3 linked regions of the Homo sapiens genome follow. The main gene of each other region encodes a partner of the protein of the gene in region 2 in a complex. Each region holds a gene or a part of one and is shown on either strand. Other genes may lie near its edges. The genes, in order: PPARA, PPARGC1B and NCBP1.

Region 1 (8,009 bases), on a different chromosome or scaffold from region 2:
GATTACAGGTGTGAGCCACCGCACCCGGCTGATACACAATTTTTAAAACTCTGTTCATAAGTTTGACAAACAGGAGCTAATGAAAACCACTGCAGTATTCGATGATTATGACACGTCTCCTACTTTACGTTTAAGATGTCGGAAAAGGGCCCGGCGCGGTGGCTCGCACCTGTAACCTCAGCCCTTTGGGAGGCCAAGGCAGGCGGTTCACCTGAGGTCAGGAGTTTGAGACCAGCCCAGCCAACATGGTGAAACCCACCTCTACTAAAAATACAAAAATTAGCCGGGTGTGGTGGTGAGTGCCTGTAATCCCAGCTACTCGGGAGGCTGAGGCAGGAGTATTGTTCGAATCCGTGAGGTGGACGTTGCGGTGAGCCAAGATCATGCCACTGCACTCCAGCCTGGGTGACAAGAGCAAAACTCTGTCACAAAAAAAAAAAAAAAAAAAAAAAGGATGTGGGAAAAGAAAGAAAAAACATTTTTTTCTAATGTCAATTAGTTAATTAATTTTATTTTATTTATTTATTTTTGAGACGGAGTCTCGCCCTGGCGCCCAGGCTGCAGTGCAGTGGCACAATCTCAGTTCACTAAAACCTTCACCTCCCAGGCTCAAGCGATTCTCCTGCCTCAGTTTCTTGAGTAGCTGGGATTACAGATGTCCGCCACCATGCCCAGGCAATATTTCTATTTTTTTGTAGAGACAAGGTTTCACCATGTTGGCCAGGCTGGTCTCGAACTCCTGGCCTCAAGCGATCTGCCCACCCCAGCTTCCAAAGTGCTGGGATTACAGGAGTGAGCCACCGCACCCAACTTGCCAATTAGTTTACTTTTGCTTCAGAGTTGCAGAGGTCATCATCAGCCCCAGTGTCCCTGGTCTCTCATGGATGGTGACCACACAAATTTGTATCATCTGGCCCGTTTCTTCAGCCTATCCCTGGCATGTTCTGGCACGGGTCTATCTCAAGAAGCCATCTGCTTAATATTCAAATCAAAATGAAAACAGCTCAGAGACAGTACACTACTCGGTACCAGTCAGTGTGGACATCCCAAGGGTCTAGTAAGCACTCACGTTTCTCAAAGTTAATGTCATCAAGTTTTAAATTATACAAAACATGCCTGCCACGAAGCAATGAAGTTCCTAGCAAAAGTCACACAATAACTCAGAACTTCAAAGTGAATCCTAGGCCAGGCACGGTGGCTCACGTCTGTAATCCCAGCACTTTGGGAGGAACAGGTGGATCATGAGGTCAGGAGTTCAAGATCAGCCTGGCCAAGATGGTGAAACCCCGCCTCTACTAAAACTACAAAAATTAGCTGGGCATGGTGGCAGGCGCCTGTAATCCCAGCTACTCGGGAGGCTGAGGCAAGAGAATCGCTTGAACCCCAGTGGCAGAGGTTGCTGTGATCTGAGATTAGGCCACTGCACTCCAGCCTGGGCGGCAGAGCGAGACTCCGTCTCAAAAAAAAAAAAAAAAAAAAAAAATGAATCCATGCACATGTATTTTACTTTCAGTCTGAAAACGTATCTAACCTTGCATCACAAAGTAATAACCCCCAGATTGCTGGTCTGTAGTGCAACAGAAGTAAACACTGAAAACACTTAAATATTTCCATCTGGAAACAGTAAATTAAACCTTCTATTTACCTGTGGTGACAGCTTCTCAGTTCTGAGCTTGTCTTGCCACAAACTGTTGAGTCCACAGAGCAGACAGGGCCCTGAGCTTCAGCCTGGCAGTAAGAAGGTGAAGGAGGAAGTGATTACGGTTGTTCTCTGGATGCCCCCCAACTCTTCACCTTGGAAGAGGAAAGTCATGCTGACCCTGCCCCGCAACGACACGGGTGTCGCAGGGTCCTTCCCAGGAAAATCCCGTGTCCTTGCCCTGACCCAGTTCCCCAAGGCACCCTTATCCCAAGGAGGCTGGGAGAGGAGGGGCCTCCCTGGTTTCCTGGCAGGGGTCGGCTGAGGCTGACGTGGGCGTGCAGCCCCGGAGGTCCCACGAAGCCCAGGCCATTGGACAACTGTGGGTTTTTCTTGGAAAGAATCCTGACACTTGGAGCACACTTCCTCTCTTTTAACTTTTAAAAAAGACTTCAGAAAAGCACAGGCGTGCAGTTGTGCCCGGTTGGGGTGCGTGAGGGGGCAGGGCCGACCCTCCTGACTTCCACTGGCACCACCCCGCGCCCCTCCAGCTTCACCCGCACCACGCGGGCCGCGCAGCCCGGGACTCCGGAAAGACCTGGGCGCCCGACCCTCAGCGGCCCCGACCGGGAGCGACGTGGCGCGGCTTCCGCAGAGAAGCCACCCGGCCCAGCGCAGCCTGTCCGGGGTCGCCCCGCCGCGTTGGGGCACAAAGTGGGAACCGTTCCTCAAAGGTGGTCGCAGCTGGAGGAACAAACACGCGCGTCTCCGTCCGACGGCAGAAGCCGGGCGCACCCACCCAGGGTCGGTCTGTCCGGGGCCCGGGTTTCCTCGCCTCGGAGATCCCTGGAGGTCTCGGAAAGCACCTTCTGAGTCGGCGACGCCCCAGCTCCGCTGCGCCGAGGAAAGGGCAAGTCCCGATGTCCCCGCCCGTGGGCCCTCCCTCCGAGGGGACAACCCGAAGACCCAGAGTCGCTGCGGTCCCCAGACCCGACCTCCGCGCAGCGCCAAACCCCAGGGACAGCCGCGGACTCGGGTTCCGGGCAGGCCCCCAGCGCTAGGAGGGAGGCCGAGCTGGGCCCCGAGATCCCTCGCAAGAGTCCTCGGTGTGTGTCCTCGCTCCTCGCCCTCAGGTCCCCAGCCGCGCACCCCGGGCCCCCGGGTCCCCGGGACCCGGAGACCCCGAGACCCCGGGCCCCGCGCATGCGCCGCCCAGCCCCTGCCCCTCCCCCGTCCGCCGCCCTCCGGGTCCCGGGACCTGGGAAGCCCGGACCGCGGACCCCCGCGCGCGTTCCCGCCCGCCCGCCCGCCCGCCCCCGGGCACCTGGGCCGCGGTCCGCCGCCTGCCGGTCCGTGGGGCGAACGCCGAAGGAGGCGGCGCCGGGCAGGGCGCTAGCGGCCGCCTCCGCCCCCGCCGCCCGCTGCCCCCGCCGCGGGGCCGCCGCGTCCACGGCCCATGCCCGGCGCCGCCTCCGCGCGTCCGTGCCAGCCGCGCCCCCGCGACACGCACCGCCCCTCGGCCCGCCCCCTGCCCCGGTCCGCGCGAGCCAGTGTCCCGAGGCCCGACCCGGAAGCCCCGCCCGCCCCGCGCGCCCTCCGGGCCCCGGGCCTCGGCCCCGGGACACACCCCCCGGAGGGCGGCGCCCGATTGGCTGCTCGCGGTGGGCGGGGCCCCGGGAGCGCTCAGCGGCTCCCACCTAGCGCCCCGCGGCCGCTGCAGCCAAGGGAAACTGAGGCCGGAGAGGTGGAGGGACCGTCCAAGGTCACCGATGGGACACCGCTGAGCGTCAGCGCCCCTCCAGCCCGGCGCACCGGGGCGGGGCTGAATTCGAGGCGGGGACGCGCGGCCGCGGGGCGGGTGGAGGTTCCCGCCGGGCGCCCGTGCCACGCTGGCGAGCCCCTCCTGCCTCCTCGATGAGCCCGGCTCTGCTACTCTGTGCGATGAGCCGGTCTAGACCCGGGACCCGGGACCGGGTGCCCTTGAGGCTCAGAAGTGCGTAGGGTGGGAGGCGGCCCGGGAGGGACCTTGTCCCTGGAACCCCAGGATGCAAAATAAGGAGAAGGGGAAGGCGAGCTGGGAGGACAAGGAAACAGGTGGCGGGAGGTGCCAGGGCGGTGTGGTGGGCGGGGGAACGAGGAGGGTGAAGGGCAACGCGGACGGGCTCGGGGAGGCGCCGCCAGCTCCGACCCCACAACCCCACCCCTCTCCAGCGGCCCAAGAGCCATGCCCGCCCCTACTTCATGCGCTGGGGGGTGAGGGGCTGACTTTGTGCCTACGCAAGGCGCTGGGACTCTGCCAGAGCAAGGAGAGGTCGCGGCCCGGTGGCCAATGGCGAGGAGTAGGAGAGCGCCCTGCAAAGCCGCTTTGTTCGGGCCGTGACGCTCGAGCTGCCGGAGCGGAATGCACAAAGCCCCTGGGTGCCGGCACATCAGGGCTCCCCTCCTCGGGAACGCAATGTGTGCTATGCCCGCTCCACTGCCTGCCCTCCGCTGCCAGCTGTGCCTGCCACTGTGCTATTTGTGGCAGCGGGCGCCCAGGAGGACCCACTCCGGAAAGCAAACCCAGATCTCATTAGGCAGGGGAACTGGAGATCAGGCGGGAACTGGCCCTTTCACAAACTTCTCTTAAACTCACCCTTGTTGATTAGCCAGGCACCTATGGTGAACTTTGCCCCACCCTCCAGACACCCACATATCCTTCCCACTGGCACACGGCAACCTCACCTTCTCTTGCACATGTTAGCCAGCAATAGCTATCATTTATGTTGTTTCAGAGTTTATAGGGTGACCTGTACACGTAATATCCTGCATATCTCGTGGGGTGTGCAGGCAGCCACATCCAAGCTTGTCATCCTGTTGTGTTTGGTGAGGGAAGCTGACCCTGGGCTGCCCACGCAGAGCTCAGGGGCTACATCCTCATGAGGACCTCCGGGCTCAAAGACATTACCTGGCATACCCATATCCCAGACTCTCAAGGACCAGGGTCCACACAGGTGTGTGACCCAGATGCACCACCCAGGTCAACCAGGTGTTGAAAGACCTAGTGAACATTCTCATGAACAAGGACAAAGGCTATGTGGGGGTGTGCAGAGTGGTCACGTACACTCAGCAGACATAGGAAAGTGATATTCTTGGGTTTTTTGGGGCTCCCAAGGTTTTAGGGAGAGAAAACTTGTTTTTCATCCATGTGTCCCAGAAATAAGCATTTTCAATCAAATGCTGTCAGCCAGTCTCCCGCAGGCGTCCTGAGGGTAGAAGCAAGTTCAGGACTCTTCTCTTGGGAGTATCCTGGCCAGAAACAGCCCCATATCCATGCTTCCCGGGGGTGGTAGGTTTCTTCTGGGAAACCACGCTCAGATGAGAGAGATGAAGCAATTTTCTGTTGGCCACGAAGACCTTGTCACACACCCAGCATGGGAGCAACTGTCACAAAGGGCACACCCTCACCCCCATTCCCAGCTCCAGGAAGTCTCTCTTTACCTTCTTCAGTGCTGATGAAATGAGGGCCACACGACAGAACAGAAACACCGCTGGCGCAGGGACTGAGTAGAAATCTGTAACTTTGAGGACAAATCAGTGCTCCTGAAAATGTCTCTGAGCACCACCTGAGTTTCCTCTCTGGCGCCTTAGTGACTACTGGGAGCATCTGGTGCATATGGATCTTAGTTCATAGCTACCATTTATGTGGTGACAATGCTGTCTCAGGTCCCTTTTTACATTTTCTGATCCGGAAGATGTTCTGAGGGTAATTATTACTGTGCCCACATTGCAAGATGGAGACTGAGGCACAGAGAAGCCCCATCTGCACTGGGTCCCCCAGGCCAGCGGCAGGGCGCAGGACGGAAGGCAGGTCTGTAAAGCCCACGTCTGCCCTGCTGAGCTGCTCTCTCCTGCAAGTGCTGACCTGCCAGCCAGCCAGAGAAGCCGAGGCTCTCCCACAGCCTCAGGGAAAGAATTGGGAAGCTGGGAATTCAGACGGGAAGGGGTTGCTGGAGGAGGCAACCTGGAGTGATAGGGCTTGGCCGCTCAGTACAGGGCAGCAGTTAGACCCTGAGTGCTGGGAGCAGGTGATGACGGTCATCTGTGTTCAGGGACCCCAGTGCTTTCCCTGACCCTGCCAGGGTGAAGCTTCTCCTATGGGCCTGGGGTCCAGGCTGGAGTCTGTTTGCCAGCCAGGGCCTGCGAAGTTTGCTGCTGGCTTGCCCTCTGCTGATGTGCAAAGCTCTCTGTCAAGGGGGAGTGTGTGCTTCCAGGGTGTCATCCGCCAGGGCAGTGGCCTCTGAGCTCCTGGAAGCGTGCCTGCAGGTCAGGTGGTGGAAGTCCACCGGGGCAGGGGCCGTGGGCTGAGAAAGGGAGGGCTCACTGGCAGCGAGCAGGCGGCTGCTTGGCGACCCAAGGCTGGACCTCGTCGGTGAGGGCCAACCATGGGCATGTCCTTAGTTGCCATCCTGGTACTGACAGCAAAACCCCATGGGTCCAAGGTAACAAAGTATTGTCATACTAGGGGACAGAATCTACAAGAGTCCCACAAGGCAGCTGTGCTTATGCTCATCTTACAGATGAGGAACGAAGGGCCAGGAATGGCAGCATGTGGCCAAGGTCCCCGGCAGGGAGTGAGAACTCTCCCGAGTCCCAGTCCATCAGCACCTGGCCCTGGGTACCCCCGGGGTTCGGTTGTCTGTTGCAGAAGCTGTCTGTTGGCTGATACGGCAGCCTCTGGCAGACTCAGGAGCCCAGGGTCAAGGATCAGATTTCCCTGGTGGCTGCTCCTGGCCCCACAGCTCCAGGGGGGTGGCAGCAGCATGTGCAGAAGCCTGTGGCAGGAGACATTCAAGGGGAGAGAGTGTGGAGATGGCACAAAGCGGGCAGAGCTGGGCAAGGCCCTGGCCAGGCAGGTCTTGCAGCCCAGTGAGGAGTTTAACTTTGGTCCTAAGGGCTGTGGGACACCTGCCATGGAGGGTTGTCAGCAGAGGCATGACTCCATCTGATTAGCACCAAGTGCTGCATGCTACATGTTAACCAGTGGTCACAGCTGAGGTGGTGGGGAGGGGCTTAAGCTGTGCACCCATTCTAGCTTTGCAGGATCTGGAAGCTTCCGCAGGTCCAGAAACTGCTGCTGTCATGACACTGTACCCTTTGAAAATTAACCAGTCCCCAGCTTTGCAGCAGGGCCCATTCGACATGGCTCAGATGTCTGTCTCTGTAGATCTTGAGAAGAACAGGGCAGCCCACCTGCAGCTGCACTGCCTCCCTTCTTTGCCCCTCCAAAGGGACAGGTGTCCACCTCGTCACACAGGATCCAGCTCCAGGGCTAGATCATGGATGTTGTTTATCCAGTCCAGGACATGGACTGGAAGCTGCAGGACCCCTCCCTGTGTCATGCTAGGTGCCGTGGGAGTCTCACTGCAAAGTGTGATGTGTAGATAGACGGATTTTCTTTCTTTACTTTTCTTTTCTTTTTTCTTCTCTTCTCTTCCCTTCCCTTCTCTTCTCTTCTCTTCTCTTCTCTTCTCTTCTCTTCTCTTCTCTTCTCTTCTCTTCTCTTCTCTTCTCTTCTCTTTTTGAGATGGAGTCTTGCTCTGCACTTATGTCCTTGCTGGAGTGCAGTGGTGAGATCTCGGCTCATTGCAACCTCCATCTCCCAGGTTCAAGTGATTCTCCTGACTCATCCTCCTGAGTAGCTGGGATTACAGGCACCTACCACCATACTCGGCTAATTTTTTGTATTTTTCATACAGACAGGGTTTCACCATGTTGACCAGGCTGGTTTCGAACTCCTGACCTCAGGTGATCCGCTCGCCTTGACCTCCTAAAGTGCTGGGATTACAGGCGTGAGCCGCTGCGCCCAACCAGATAGACATATTTGGTCCATAAAGGACAATCTGCTCTGTGTGGAGTTGGATTCTGCAATGATCTGACCCAGTGGTTGGCAGTGAGTGGCACTGCTGCGGCCAGGGAAGACTGCAAGTGCAGAGATGAGGTCTGGCATGACAGCCTGGAAACACACAAGACAGGCAAGCTTACGTGCACAGCACCGTGCCACGTGGGCACTGTCCCCCAACTTTCCCTCATGGAATGAGTGGGTGCCTGGGGTTTGGAGTTCAACAGAATTGGATTCAAATCCTCCTGTACCTTTTCCTCAAACTACAACCTCCAGCCGGTGATGCTATCCGAGCCCCCTCATCTCTAAAATGGGGCAGGGACGCCTTCCTGGATGGGTCCTGGTGTGAGTTTGAGGAGGGAGCACGGGGGTGGTGCAGGGTGGGGCCTGATGAGTGGGTCATATTTGGGACATGGTAACCACCAGCTTGAGGGCTCTGTCAAGAGTTGCCTCCTACAGGAAGCCTGCTTGGCAACCGTCCCCCTGCCA
Region 2 (7,549 bases):
TTTCCAAGAAACTTTCGCAATCCTTGTTCTGCTAAATTTCCGTACTTTGGCCCCAATGGGTAAAAGTTAAGTCTCCTAAACAGAAGTCCTCCCTCTAATCTAACCCTGGATTAGCCACCAAAGACAACAACAATCTTTTGGGACAAAGACAATGAATTACCATTTAATCCACTTTCCCCAAAGCTCCCAAAGGGAGATGAAGGAGGGGAGGGTCAGGGAAAGTTTGGGGGAGGAGAGGGGGTTGCAGGAACAACCAGAACATCTCACATGCAAACACTGCTCACCCCCACCACCAGGCCATTGGATTCTCTTGCGGCACCACCAGCCCCATTTGACAGATGGAGGAAATGAGGCTCGGAGAGTTCAAATGGCTTGCTCCGGGGTCACCCAGCCAGAGAGTGGGGAAGGTGACTCCACTCAGGCCTTCTGACTCCAAGTCCAGTGCTATTTCTAGGTAACACACAGGACCTGGAGTCAGGAGCCCTGGGTGGCTCTGTCACCCTCTGGCTGCATGGTCCCATACAAGCCGCTCACTCCTCGCAGCCTCTTTCTCCAGCTGTAAAATAAGGAGGAGCACACTGGGCCCGCCCAGGTCCTCTTCCGGCTGGGCTCTCCGAGCCTTCTAGGGGCGGCTCAAAGCTCATCCTATCAATTACATTTCCCAAGTTGGGCCGGCAAAGATCACCAGAAGATCCTCGGCCTGTCATGTGGTTAAATAAAAAAAGCAAATGTCCCAGATTAACTTTCACTGCACTGCTCCTGCAAACACCTGAGTATTCAATTTTCTAGTTTCCTTAGTTGAAATATTTCTGCTAGCTAGGCTCGCTGGGCGGCTAAAGGGCAAAATAATTAATTATTGCTGAGCCAAACACTGAAGATCGAGTTAAAATCCGGGGTACAGTCCAAAGCGGACAGTTCTTGACATGGGTCCCTGAACGAGTCTCCGGCTATTTCAGGCCTCTCTCATCCGCTTTTCAGCCAAGAGATTCGGAGACGCCCCAGGGCAATTTCGAGATCTGGGGACAGAATCTTCCCAGGAGTGACTCTGCCCCTCCTCCCGCACTCAGTGCCCGCTAGCCCCAAGCTGTCGGCTCTGGGGGTACTGAGGCTGGGACCTGCCTTCGGCGCAGACACCGGCGCGGGGCGTGTGACGGAGCCCGGCGACGACGGCGGGAGCTCCACCGCAGTTTCGTCAGAGGTAAAGGTACGCGCCCGGCGCGCGCGGCGTGTGCACACACACACACACACACACACACACACACACCCGCGCGCGCAACCCGCTCATCACACATTCCCCTCGATCTCGAGAAGCGCAATCACACGCCACTAGCCCCTCCGGCCTCTGCCGCGAACCCACCCGAGCGCGCCCGCCACCGACCACGCGGCCCCGCGGCTCCCCTACGCAGCGGCGTCTGCAGCGGGCCAGGGGCGGCCTGCCTCCCGCGTGGCGGGCTTCCTCTCGGCGACACCCTGCCACGCCACGCCGTCCCAGCCGCCAGCCCGAAGTCGCTGCCCGGAGCTGAACGTCTCGGCTGCGGCGTCCCTTCCAAGTCGCGTTTCACCGCAAGGAGTCAGCTTGCAAGCCTCTCCCCGCCCACCCGGTCCCATGACAGCTGCTGCCGCCCAAAGACAGGCAGATTATAACAAGAAGCAAAGTTTCCCTCTCTCTCCTCCCACCTCCCTCCCCCAATCTCCGCCTTCCCCCTCCCTTCCACTGTTATGCAAAACGGGCCGGCACCGGCGCTCCCACTCCAGGTACCAAACCAGCCCCCGCGAGCCGCGCCCGGTTCCGCCCGGCCGCCCCTCTCCGTGCCCAGGCGTGTGCCAGCACCCGGGGCTCCTCCGAGGTTCCGCCGCATCCTCAGCTTCCCAATGACCCGCAGCCGGGCGCCCAGAGAAAAAGCCCTAACTCTGGAGCCAAACTTTATGCTTGCAACAGGCATTGGGTGGGGAAAATGGGGGAAGGGGTGGGGGCCGCGCACGCCTCGTGCTGACATTTTTGGTGGCTGCTTGTCCCAGCAGCACCCCTCTCCCAGTCTCCAAGCCACCAGCTTCCTCGCTCCCCCGCGCCCCGGCACACCAGAGCACCCTCTCCTGTCACGCGCGTGTCGCCAGTGGGGCTCCCGGGCTCAGCCAGTGCCTGGGACTCCGCCTCGCCTTCCCTTCCCCCTGCATCGTGGAGCGCGCACCGGGGCCGCGCACCGCAGGGGGACCCAGGCGCCCCCAGACAGTCCTTCCGCCCCCATCCAGCCTGGCTTTTCCCCCCAGGGGGCTCCGCCCGATAGCGAAACCAGGAAGACGCTGTCTCCGCCCGCATGTCCACGTGCCCCGCAGACCCTTATGCCTTTAGCCGGCAACTGGCAGGAAACTCCGCGCTGCGGGCGCGGGTAGAAAGCCGCGGGGGGCCAGCAACAGCACTCTGGGGACTACAGCCTGGAGGACTAGGGGACTCCGGAGACCCGGGCATGCACCCGTGCCGGGGCCACAAGTCCACGTGAAAGTACGGCAGCAAGTGCCGGGCGCTGACGGCGCGCCTCCAGCACCCAGCGCCAGCCTGAGGGTACCCCACACCGTGGCGCGCCTCCACCTCCCAAAGGAAGCGCGGTACCCCCCAGTTTTGCCCGCGGGGTGGCAGACTCCAAGCGGCCAAGGCTAGACCCTCCCCAGCGGCCGTAGCGCCCCCAGCGCTCCGGCACGCGCCGGGAGACCTCCGGCTCCCTGCCCCGGTAACGGAGCGCATCGCAGGGCGCCTGGAAGGGGGGCTCTGCAGCCTGGAACCCCCAGTTACCCCAGGGCTCCCACCGCTGCCTCCCGGCCTCCGCGGCTGCAGCTGCGGCCCCCGCAGCTCAGCACCCCTGGCCCCGGGCCCGCAGCCCCAGCCGGCCGTACCTGCGTGTCAGCGAGATAGTTGAGGAAGAAGGAGGAGAGCTCTTCGTCCAGCAGCGCGCCGCAGTCGTTCCCCGCCATCTTCCAGCCGCGGCTGCAGCGTGCGGCGGAGTCAACGCCGAGCCGGCCCGGGGGGAGGGAGCCAGCGAGCGAGCAAGGGAGGAGGGAGGAGGGAGTGAGGCCGGCGGGAGGCGGAGGGCGGAGCTCGAGCCCCCGGCTGCCGCAGGGCCGCTAGCTGCGGGGGCGGGGCCGCGCGGCGCCCGCGGGAGCCGGGGGTCGCTCACCCACTTTCCTGCGCCGTGTCTGGCGCCGCGACCAGCTCACGCAGCCCTCAGCAAGGGGTAAAGCGCAGGCAGCCAGGTGGCGGTGCCCCAGCCAGCAGCCCGATGCCTGCGCAGCAATGCGGGCAGCCCCCGGCTCCTGCCAGAGCGAATCACGTTGCGTTAGCGCTGGGCGGGTCCTGCGAGACAACCTGCTTCTTCTGCACAGCTGGGGAAACTGAGGCTCGAGAAGGAATAGGACCTCGTTCGAAGGCCGGGCGCAGTGGCTCACGCCTGTAATCCCAGCACTTTGGGAGGCCGAGGCGGGTGGATCACCTGAGGTCAGGAGTTTGAGACCAGCCTGGCCAACATGGTGAAACCCCGTCTCTACTGAAAATACAAAAAAAATTAGCCAGGCATGGTGGCGGGCGCCTGTAAGTCACTCTTCATATCCCTCCTGAAAAAAAAAAAAAAAAAAAAATATATATATATATATATATATATGTATGTATGTGTATATATATGTATGTATGTATGTATGTGTATATATGTATGTATGTATGTGTATATATATGTATGTATATATATGTATGTGTATATATATGTATGTATATATATATGTATGTATGTATGTATGTATGTATGTATGTATGTATATACCTAGGACCTCGTTCAAAGCTACAGCGCACATCAGTTGCAGGAAGGGAAAGCTTAGGTCTTACTCCCCTGGAGGACTGTTTCTCTACCCAGGCTACAAGGCCAGAGAAGGAGGGAGAAATACCATAGATCAAAAGCAAAGAAATCAAGGAAGTCTCCTTGGAGGAGGAGGCATTTTTATCTTTTACTTGAAGGGTGCGTTTGCCTATATTCTGTGCTAAACCTGATCATATATCTCTCTCTGCCATCGTCCCCAGCACCCTTCCCCCAAAAAACTCCAATGAGTTCTCTTACCAATGCCCACAATGCATGAAGGGGCTGGGCTCCTGCCAGCCTCCGCAGGCCCGCTCACAACGGGCTTGCCACTCACCTAGTAATCTCTTCGGGGCATCTTTCCCTATTACCCCTTGGACTGTCAAGCCATTTCCTCTCCTTCCACCTCCACCATCATGGGCTCCCTTAGCTCCACCAGCAGGCCTTTTTTCTCTAAAAGCTGGTCACAGTTGCCGTTTTACATTTGTTGCAATGAAGACTTAATCTTTGTATCTCTCCTTACAAGACTCTAACACCATGAAAGCAGGGCCTAAATCTGCTTTTGCACTTGCTGTATCTGCCGTTTCTGGCACATAGTAGGCACTTAATAGATGATGTGTTAACTGAAAAAGCTGGAGAATTTTGATTCTCTGCCACCACCACCACCACACATTATACAGATAAGGAAACTGACTGTCAATGTGTACATGGAGTGACTGCCTGAGCCAGAACCAGAACTCAGACCTCCTGACTCCAACCTTGAACTCTCATCATCATGCCCTGTTGTTTACCAAACAGGAGATGAGGGCACTGCCTGGATGAAGGCAAGAAGGCGGGAAGCTTTAGGTCTGTTTTATTGGGCACGCCTGCCTCCTGCCCTCCTCCCACCCTACACTCATAAGGGCTGCCCCACCCTGCCCACCTAACAAGGGCTCCCTTCCAGCGGGAGAAGGAAATAGAGGGAGAGTCCCCAGCACACCTGCTGAGACTTGAACACCAGGGCAAAAGCTTCCTTCTCCAGTCTGAGGTTCCCAGAACCGCAGGCCGTGATTTCACTCTTTGGGCTTAAGGCCAGTGTGCTTTTAAGGAACAATGCATTCCAACAGAGAGCCTGCATCTAGCCTCAGAGCCCTAGACTAGGAGTTAGGAGTCCTGGGTTCTGTTTCAGACCCTGCATCTGGATACTGGAACATCTTGTTCCAGTATCCAGCAATTCAGGGGGTGAAGAGCGTGGGCCCTGGAGTCACACTGCCTGATTTGGAACCACAGCAAGTCATTTAGTCTCGGGCCTCGGTTTCCTCATCTACACAAATGGGGACCAAAAAACCACCAACTTCATAGGGATGTTTTGATGATTGAGGAGATAATATATGTACAGTGCTTGGCACAGTGCCTGACCTCATGGAGAATACGCTAAGCGCTCTGTTCTGTTTCCCTTCTGTTAAAATGGGAATAAGAAATATATATCCCTTAAAGGCACTAGCCAATGTTACTTGCCTTTTTTCCAGCACTTACAGGCTGCTGGCGTACTTTGGACTCCAGTATATTCAGATTTGAATCCTGGTGCAAACTAGCTATGTGCCCTTGGTCATTTACTTAACCTCTCTGAGCCTCAGTTTCCTCATCTGTAAAGTGGGGATAGCAATGGTACTGCTCCACATAGGGATCTTGTGAGGATGGATTGAATGAAATAATGCAATTCATGTAAAGTCAGTTGCCTGGCCCTGAATCTTGCAGGTAGGAAATGCCCATCATCACTATAATCATCACCAACATCACCAATGTCATCACCATTAGCACTAAGGACTTGAATTCTCCCAAGACCCCATTTTTTTTGCTACTCCCCTGGGCACCAGAGTCAGAGTCCTGTGGGATGGTTTCTGGAGATGTCCCTTCCAGGCCCAGCCTGGCCCCTGACTGGTGGTGTGTCCTTCATAGCCCAGAGGCCAAACTTGGGAGTGTCCCCAAAGCCAGCCATCTCTAGCCTTGGTCCTTGCAGAGCTGCAGTGCCATTCACTGCCTTGCCAGGGAAGGCCTGACAGCACTTTCCCAGAGGCTTTTTTGTTTTTAAAACTCCCGTGTTGATAGAAAAGCCACACATTGCCCAACGTCAGGGACTTTCTCACCAGTCACTACATCCTCACAACAGTCTTCTGGCTGGCAAGAAATTTAGGTGAGAAAGGGCCTCACCTGAGATATCTAGCGTCCTTTTGAAAAGCATATTGTCCCAGAAATTCCTTCATCACAGGTTGCTCACAGAGTCTCAGCCTCATGGAGGAATTTGAAGTTCCTCTGGCCCATGGAAAAATGTGAAGTTCTTAATTGAGATTAAAAGTCCTGGCCTGGGTGTGGTGGCTCATGCCTGTAATCCCAACAATGGAAGGCTGAGGCCAGAGGATCACTTGAGTCTAGGAGTTTGAGAACAGCCTGGGCAACATAGGGAGATCCCATCTTTACAAAAAATACAAAAAAAAAAAAAAAATTAGCCAGGGTTTATGGTGTACACTCGCGGTCCCACCTACACTGGAGGCTAAGATGGGAGCATCACTTGAGCCCAGGAGGTTGAGGCTGTAGTGACCTGTGATCATCACTGCCCTCAAAAAAGCCTGAGACCCCATCTCAAAAAAAAAAAGCCCTCAAAAAACCTGAGGTGCTAGATGATCTTGTGCCATTTGCTTCTCCTCTCTGAGGCTGTTTTCTTATCTATAAAATGAAGGAGCGGCCTGGCCTGGTGGCTCACGCCTGTAATCCCAGCAGTTTGGGAGGTCGAGGCAGGCAGATCACCTGAGGTCAGGAGTTCGAGACCAGCCTGGCCAACATGGTGAAACCCCATCTCTACTAAAAATACAAAAATTAGCCGGGTGTGGTGGCGGGTGCCTGTAATCTCAGCTCCTCGGGAGGCTGAGGCAGGAGAATCGCTTGAACCTGGGAGGCGGAGGTTGCAGTGAGCCTGGGGGTAAGAGCAAGACTTCGTCTCAAAAACAAAAAACAAAAAAACGAAGGAGTGGTCAGTTGGGCGCACTCCAGCCTGGGGACAAGAGCGAGACTTCCTCTCAAAAAAAAAAAGAAGGAGCAGTCCGGGCGCAGTGGCTCACGCCTATAATCCCAGCACTTTGGGAGGCTGAGGCAGGCTGATTATGAGGTCAGGAGATCTAGACCATCCTGGCTAACAGGGTGAAACCTCATCTCACTAAAAATACAAAAAATTAGCAGGGCGTGGTGGCCCCCGCCTGTAGTCCCAGCTACTAGGGAGGCTGAGTCAGGAGAATTGCTTGAACCCAGGAGGCGGAGGCTGCAGTGAGCTGAGATTGTGCCATCGCACTCCAGCCTGGGCGACAGAGCAAGACTCCGTCTCAAAAAAAAAAAAAAAGAAGAAGGAGCTAGCCTAGATGAACCTCTACAGAGTCCTGCAGCCCGGATGTTATGGCAGTTTATAGACATCAACCAAACCTTAGGGCTTTTCTGTACTGAGCATGTGCCCAACGCCTGAGTTTATAGCATCTCTAATCCTTCCAGCAACCCTCCGTAGGGTAAATCATGATGTCCATTTTATGACTAAAGAAACAAAAGTTTAAAGGGGGTTAAAGTGATTGGCCCCAGACTACATAGAGACAACAGCTCAGATTTGAACCTGGGTGTGTACATGGTCTGAGCCACAGACACTGGAAAGGGAGTGTGAAAAGTCTCATAGCATCTAACCTCCCCAGGAAAGC
Region 3 (7,000 bases), on a different chromosome or scaffold from region 2:
CTATGAGGATTATTTATTTTGATGCCCAAATTGTCCCTGGTATGTACATGAGGAGCCCCGGTAAGCTCTCTCTCTCTCTCTCTCTCTATATATATATATATATATATTTTTTTTTTTTTTTTTAACGTCCCCAGCCATTCATTGAGCATTCCCTTATTTTCTAGAACAACATATTTAGGATCATCTTGCGTTTTCTTGCCCTATCACTGGAATCATCTATTTATTCATGGAGCCCTAGTTTCTAGTAAAGTAGTAATGGAATATGGTATTTAGGAGCCAAGATCTGGGCACTTGATATGCTCATTGCCATTGGGGTGTCATTGGTTCTAAGCCTCTTGGTGGACACACATCCATCCATCCATAACTGTTTTTATGTCCACCTGTGTGTATATATGCCTCCAATTCCAACTCAATACCTTATTTCTACACTTCTTCTCTACCATGATTTGTAAACACCTTCTCAGGCAGTAACAAACTTGGCTTCCATTATCCTCAATATTTATTTATTTGATAGAATATAGCCAGTTTCCAAAGCGTGCAGTCATCTCCACCATGCCCCATCATCACCCCACATACTTGGCCACCAGGCTCATGAGCTCACTCACCCGCACCTCAGTGCAAGCCAGTGAGTTTTGCAGTATGCCTGAGATTTGGTGTGCTGGCTTAGACAAAAACTCAAAGGATTTTTTTTTCCCTTTCACTTCTTGGTTGTCAGCTGAGTTCAAGTTGTTGGAGATCATGACTTTCCAGGTAAGTCGGGTGTTACCGAAGAATGGGACTGATAAAAGATATTTTCTGAGGCTGTTATTTGTATTGTAGGTTGTCTTACCATCAGCGTATATTAGATATTGTTCCTCCTACCTTCTCAGCTCTGTGTCCTGCAAACCCAACCTGCATTTACAAGTATGGAGATGAAAGTAGCAGTAAGTAATGAAACTAATCCCTCTGTCTTTAAAAGGTACCAGTTCAAGTATATCTGAAGTTAGTTGTTTAAAGTGGAGAAATTGAACTTTTTCTTTTCTTGGGGTTTATATTTCCTGTATTTGAAAGGTGGTCTATCATTAGCCACTGTTTTATTTGCCCTGTCATCATTTTGAGGATTTGGTTGTGATAAAATTAATTACTACTGGCTTATCATTTTTTCTCTTTTGAATGTGTTAAGTATAGCAAGATGAATTTATAGTTAGAACTTACTAAACTGAAAACGTGTATTTGTCATGGTGATGGAGGTTACTTGAATTCATTATCTTGTTCAGGTGTGGTATTGAGAACATAGATGCACATATTTGTGGCAGTATGCCTTTAAAAGTAAATTCTTAATTATGATTTTCTTACCTTTTGGTCACATAATCTCTGAAATTGCACCATAAATCAGGGAGTGTAATTTGATGTGCCATTTTGCCCTTTGCATAGTATTTACACTTAATGAAGGTAAAGTATTATACATTGTTGATCACTGGTAGAGTTAGGTGTGGAGTTTTTCCAACTTGTTCTTTGCAGATTACACTTAACACAGCCCCTCCATGATCCTTCCATTTTGTGTTGTGTAGAGGTTCTTTGTATCTCACAACTTTCTGCTGTTCTTTGCTTTTCATACTGTGTGCCTGTTTCTCCACCTCTGTCTCTGACTGTACCTGTTTTCCTTGAAATGAACTGTGTCGGTCCTGGTACATTTCCTATTTCATTATGTCAACTCTGAAGAATAGATATGATTATCAAAACTACAATGAGGAAATGACTTCCAAGAGGTCAAGCTAGAATGAGATTGCTTTTGAGTGGTGGAGCCCAAATTCAGGCGTAGGTGCACTAACTGAGTGGCCATGCTGTTAGCCACTGTGCTTTTTGGCAGATCAAAGGTTTATGCAGTACTTAGAAGTGCTGGGTTTTGAGTTTTGTCCTGTACTGGTTCCGAGAATGATAAGGTGTAGTCTTTGCTATCAGAAAGCTCAGGCTTTTGTTGAAGATTAAGCTTTCTTTTTGCCCCATAGGAATAACTCCGCCTAACATTCAAGGCCTTCATAACCATTGTTCCTACTTTGTTATTTTTCACTTCTCCCCACATGGACCTCTATTTCTGCCAGGTCCATGTACTTTTTTATTTTTTCCATACTCCCTGTTCTTGACTTTGCCATTACCCCAGTCTGGAAAGCCCTTTCTAGCTCCACTTCCTTTTCTCCTTCTAGATTCTAGCCCAAGCTCAATAGCTGTAAATATTTTTTAACCGTTAGCAAGCCAGTTTTGTATTGCTTCCTGGCTGTGTCTAATGTGAATATCTTGGTTCCCCAGCTAGAATGTAGACTGGTGACAGGGGATTCTGTTTTTCTTCGCCTTCTTTTTTTTAGAGAAAAAGCTCACAGCAGGTGTAATATGACTGTCCTCACATGACTGTTGTAATTTACTTTATTCATTCCAGTAACTCATACTCTATAACAGGATTGCCTTTTTTGTTACCTCTTTGTCTACCTTACATTAAAAGCAGATTTCTTGTTGCTCTGGTGATGCCTTACGGTGTATATTAGCACAAATTTTTATAATAAGGACTCAACTGATACCAACCAATAGTAAATACAAGGAGTCCCATCACGTGAGCATCTGACTTACGTAGATTCAAGCTTGTGGACTCAGCAAAAAAGAAAAGTACAAAAACAAAACCTCTCTGAAGTTGGCAGCCATTACCTTGTTGAGACTCAGACTTCATTTCCACGGTCCCGAGGAAAGAAAGAGGAAGTGGGTGTTGGCAAAATGAAAGAGAAGTACGTTGGTTCTGGGATTTTGAGCCCAGGAGAGTTGAGGGCATTAAAAGACAGTTTAACTGTGTCCACTTTTCTCCTTACCATTCATCTTGAGGATGATCAGCACCTTGTGCTCTAAATTTTACTTAGCTAAGTGTCCTTAATGAATTGTTGAAATGAGAATTGTCCCTTTTTAGGTGAAAAACCATTAACCTATTAGAAAAAGCTTTCACATACGGTATTTATATGTGATTAAATATTGACCTTGGGATAAAGAGCATCCTATTTTGAAAGGAAGAATTTAAAAAAAATTTTTCTCAGTTATTTAACTGTTCATTAGAATAGTCTTGAAACCTGATCTGTCATTCCCCTTACCCCCAATTCTGTGTTTAGATTCTCTTCCTGGACATTCTGTTGCCCTCTGTTTAGCTGTTGCCTTTAAAAGTAAGGCAACCAATGATGAAATCTTCAGCATTCTGAAAGATGTACCAAATCCTAACCAGGATGATGACGACGGTAAGTGGAATTCAGTATTTCTTAAGTGGAACTATGTATAGGCCAACTTAAAGCATAAACATAACTCTGGCAACATGATGCTCTTAAAGCAATATATCTATATCTGTTTGACCTGTTCAGACTGTTGTTCTTAGCACCCCAGGTATTTTCCCCTTATATAAAAAGAGATCCTAACATTTCTGTGATATAGCTTACTTAAGAATATAAACTTCATCGTAAATACAAAGTGAAATATGTTACCATTCAAGGATTTTTAACCCCTGCTTTCACCATAGAGAAGTTCCTGAATAGAAAGACTTGGTGTGTTATAAAGTTGGATGTTTTCTCCAAGTTAAGCTATTAGAATAATAATGTTTAACATTTACTCAGTTATATACCATGTAATTCCAACCAGAATCCTAGGAGTTTTTCTGGGCAAGAGTGGGAAAATTGACAAAATAATTTATACAGTTGCCTGAATCAATAAATGGATATGCACATAGAAAAACTACTGAATCAAAATAAGATATTAGTGGCCTTTGGGTATTTATTACTGGGATTTTGTTTGGATATCTCTAAGAAATTTGTATTATGATATTAGAGAAAATGAGTTTAGAAAGAATAAGCCAAAATGATGGCATTAAATTCAGATGTTGTCAGACATCTTAAGACATAAGCTTAAGTGTTTTTTTTTTTTTTTTTTGGTATTAATATAATAGAGGCTATGAATAAGGAAACCTGTGTGATTTTTTTTTTTCAAGGAATGGATGATAGAATTAAGACAGTCACATAAAACTAAGACTTAAAATTACAAGTGGTTTCATATTTTCAGTGTTTGAAATCAGTGACGGTCTTTTATTGTTTATTAGAACCAAAAAACATTACACAAATATCTGTGTATAGATGTGAGCAACCATCTATTTAGCATTTGAGGTAAGGCACCAAGGAATTGCTGTGCTTACATTTTTCTGTTTTACTATAAAATATTTTTCAGATGAAGGATTCAGTTTTAACCCATTGAAAATAGAAGTCTTTGTACAGACTCTGCTACACTTGGCAGCCAAATCATTCAGCCACTCCTTCAGTGCTCTTGCAAAGTATGTATGAGTACAGAGCCTTGCTTGAGAGTTTGGAATTTTGCTTGGTGAACACCAGTGGTATGGTAATTTTTACCTAAGATTGTTGAATATGAAGATCTTAATAGTGTATAATTGGACACAGTGGGTTTGGGTTTGTGGTAGCTGAAATCCATATCCTAAGGCTTCCGTCAGTCTGTTTGTACAGTTGGCATATGTACATGGTAAGTGCTTTTTTTCATATAGACATTTAAAGAAACTAGTGAAAAACCTAGGTTTTTGGGACAGTCATATGCAGTTGGAAGTTCCCACGCTAAATATCTTTCCAAAGCAATGTAAGAAGAAATTAGAATCAGCTACACTGTTGGGAGTCACGCAAAGGTTGGCATCTGAAGACAGGTATTTTTAACTTGTCAGACAGGGTCCAAAGGAAGAAAGAGCACATAGATTTTCCTTCTGCCAAGCAGAGAAACTGGACATCTCACCCCATCTCTGTCTCCAAGGCTTTATATTACTTGCAGGGTTCCCACAGAAGATGCAGTTTGAATATTTCACCATGTTTGAAGACAGTTCCTTAGTCCTTACCTATTCTTTTAAACTGTAGCCCTGGGCTAACGGTAGTATATTGTAAATGTCTTGAGATTTTGTGACAGCTTCCTTAAAAACTATCAATCTGTGATCACACTTTTTGCATCCTTAATGGTTAATACTTAGTTATTTTGCATTTATATATTGCATTATAAATTGAGTAACATTGAAAAGGCTTTGAAAACACTAAAATGTTTAATGAATAAGTATATATGGTATTTTTTTCCCATCATTATCAAAAGGTTTCATGAAGTCTTCAAAACCCTAGCTGAAAGTGATGAAGGAAAGTTACATGTGCTAAGAGTTATGTTTGAGGTCTGGAGGAACCATCCACAGGTAAAAATTATTTAATTAGACATGTTGAAGCTCTGATTGTATGGGTATAAAAATAAGGCCGTTAATTGCCATTGTTTTGTTTGTAAAACATGAAATTTGACTCTGCCTAGATAATGGTTTTTAGATCTAATTCTTTCAGTGCTATGGGAGTAATGATGTTTCATTCATTCTTGAAAGAGTAAGCATTATTATGATTTGGTTTTGAACTATAATATCTCAATATGTTTTAAATGTTCAGGAAAAGGTTTATCTAGTCTATCCAGTTTCTAAATGCAAGCTCCAGATTTCTCAAACCTTGATATATATTGTGTATGACAAAGAAACATTTAAATAAATTTCATAAAACAGTGAGTGTGTAATGATAAAACATTGTTTTACATTTAACTTCTGGGGTTCATTGAAATTATGTATTTTTTTGAATACGTATTAGTACCTGAAATTTAAATTTTTTTTTGGAGACAGAGTCTCACTCTGTCACCCAGGCTGGAGTGCAGTGGCGCAATCTTGGCTCACTGCAACCTCCGCCTCCCGGGTTCAAGTGATTCCCCTGCCTCAGCCTCCCGAGTAGCTGGGATTACAGGCGTCCACCACCACACCTGGCTGATTTTTGTATTTTTAGTAGAGATGGGGTTTCACCATGTTGGCCAGGCTGGTCTGGAACTCCTGACCTCAGGTGATCTGCCCACCTCGGCCTCCCAAAGTGTGCTAGATTACAGGTGTGAGCCACCGCGCCTGGCCAGTTTTTTCAAATTTTAACTGTTACCATTCAGAGTTTTTGTTTAGTCAACCTGTTTCTTGTAGTGCTAGAGCAAAGCAAAGGGGAGAATAAATCTTAAGACCTAATGATCAGGCCAGGCGTGGTGGCTCTTACCTGTAATCCTAGCACTTTGGGAGGCCGAGATGGATGGATCACTTGAAGCCAGGAGTTCGAGACCAGCCTAGGCAATACAGTGAAACCCCGTCTATACTAAAATTACAAAAATTAGCCAGGCATGGTGGTGCACACCTGTAATCTGAGCTGCTCAGGAGGTTGAGGCAGGAGAATTGCTTGAACCTAGGAGGTGGAGGTTGCAGTGAGCTGAGATCGTGCCACTCCACTCCCGCCTAGGTGACAGAGCAACTCTGTCTCCCAAAAAAAAGACCTAATGGTCAGATTGATCAATCAATTCCATAGCCACCAAAACTAAATTTTATAGCCCTCCTATTTTACTTTTATAGCAGCAGTGTGGTGGCACATATATATGTGTGTGTATGTGTGTGTGTGATTTACTTGAATAATTCTCTCATTGTAGATGATTGCTGTACTAGTGGATAAGATGATTCGTACACAAATAGTTGATTGTGCTGCCGTAGCAAATTGGATCTTCTCTTCAGAACTATCTCGTGACTTTACCAGGTAATATAAATTATTTTATGAAACTTGTGTTCCCTAAGAATTGATATATGTGTGGTCTCTTATACATAAGCTTCAAATTCTGGTCCAAACCAGGTTGATATTAATATACTAATGGTCCAATCTGGTAGGATTGGACATGGCAAAAATTCCTAGACAGTGGAAACATACACAGCCTATCAGGTTGCAGCGTCTCTTAGCAGGGACACTCTTAAGTTGAATCAAGGCTAAGCCAGTGAAGTAGAAATCCTGTTGAAGGATCCAGACTGTTGGGAGAGAAAACTAGCAAGAGCCAGCTATGTGCAGAGTCTCAGCTAGTCCAGATGGAACTCGGGAAGGGTTCCAGCTTCAGTGGGGATGGCACCTAGAATGCACACCAG

The links.
Region 1: the proteins of PPARGC1B (region 2) and PPARA are in contact, whole or in part, in a crystal structure (PDB 3SP6), measured with the Homo sapiens proteins. Residues at the interface, in NP_573570.3 of Homo sapiens: Ser154, Leu155, Leu156, Gln157, Leu159, Leu160, Leu161, Thr163; in NP_001001928.1 of Homo sapiens: Val284, Thr285, Thr288, Glu289, Lys292, Phe297, Leu302, Asn303, Gln305, Val306, Leu309, Pro458, Leu459, Glu462, Ile463.
Region 3: the proteins of PPARGC1B (region 2) and NCBP1 are in contact, whole or in part, in a crystal structure (PDB 6D0Y), measured with the Homo sapiens proteins. Residues at the interface, in NP_573570.3 of Homo sapiens: Tyr1006, Glu1007, Ala1008, Met1009, Asp1010, Phe1011, Asp1012, Leu1014, Leu1015, Lys1016, Glu1017, Ala1018, Gln1019; in NP_002477.1 of Homo sapiens: Glu26, Asp29, His30, Ser33, Leu34, Lys37, Val38, Lys41, Ser42, Ala43, Cys44, Asn49, Gly52, Leu53, Val56.

What each region holds. Positions count from the first base shown.
Region 1 is NC_000022.11:46,145,607-46,153,615, reverse strand, and holds the start of PPARA (peroxisome proliferator-activated receptor alpha), read right to left. Parts: upstream 3,091-8,009; 5' UTR 2,964-3,090; intron 2,829-2,963; exon of another isoform or gene 2,439-2,828; intron 1,729-2,438; 5' UTR 1,646-1,728; intron 1-1,645. UniProt on the Homo sapiens protein: Ligand-activated transcription factor. Key regulator of lipid metabolism. Activated by the endogenous ligand 1-palmitoyl-2-oleoyl-sn-glycerol-3-phosphocholine (16:0/18:1-GPC). Activated by oleylethanolamide, a naturally occurring lipid that regulates satiety.
Region 2 is NC_000005.10:149,725,761-149,733,309, reverse strand, and holds the start of PPARGC1B (peroxisome proliferator-activated receptor gamma coactivator 1-beta), read right to left. Parts: upstream 3,001-7,549; 5' UTR 2,968-3,000; coding exon 2,890-2,967; intron 486-2,889; exon of another isoform or gene 420-485; intron 1-419. UniProt on the Homo sapiens protein: Plays a role of stimulator of transcription factors and nuclear receptors activities. Activates transcriptional activity of estrogen receptor alpha, nuclear respiratory factor 1 (NRF1) and glucocorticoid receptor in the presence of glucocorticoids.
Region 3 is NC_000009.12:97,657,821-97,664,820, forward strand, and holds part of NCBP1 (nuclear cap-binding protein subunit 1), read left to right. Parts: intron 1-819; coding exon 820-923; intron 924-3,125; coding exon 3,126-3,248; intron 3,249-4,221; coding exon 4,222-4,324; intron 4,325-5,133; coding exon 5,134-5,227; intron 5,228-6,519; coding exon 6,520-6,623; intron 6,624-7,000. UniProt on the Homo sapiens protein: Component of the cap-binding complex (CBC), which binds cotranscriptionally to the 5'-cap of pre-mRNAs and is involved in various processes such as pre-mRNA splicing, translation regulation, nonsense-mediated mRNA decay, RNA-mediated gene silencing (RNAi) by microRNAs (miRNAs) and mRNA export.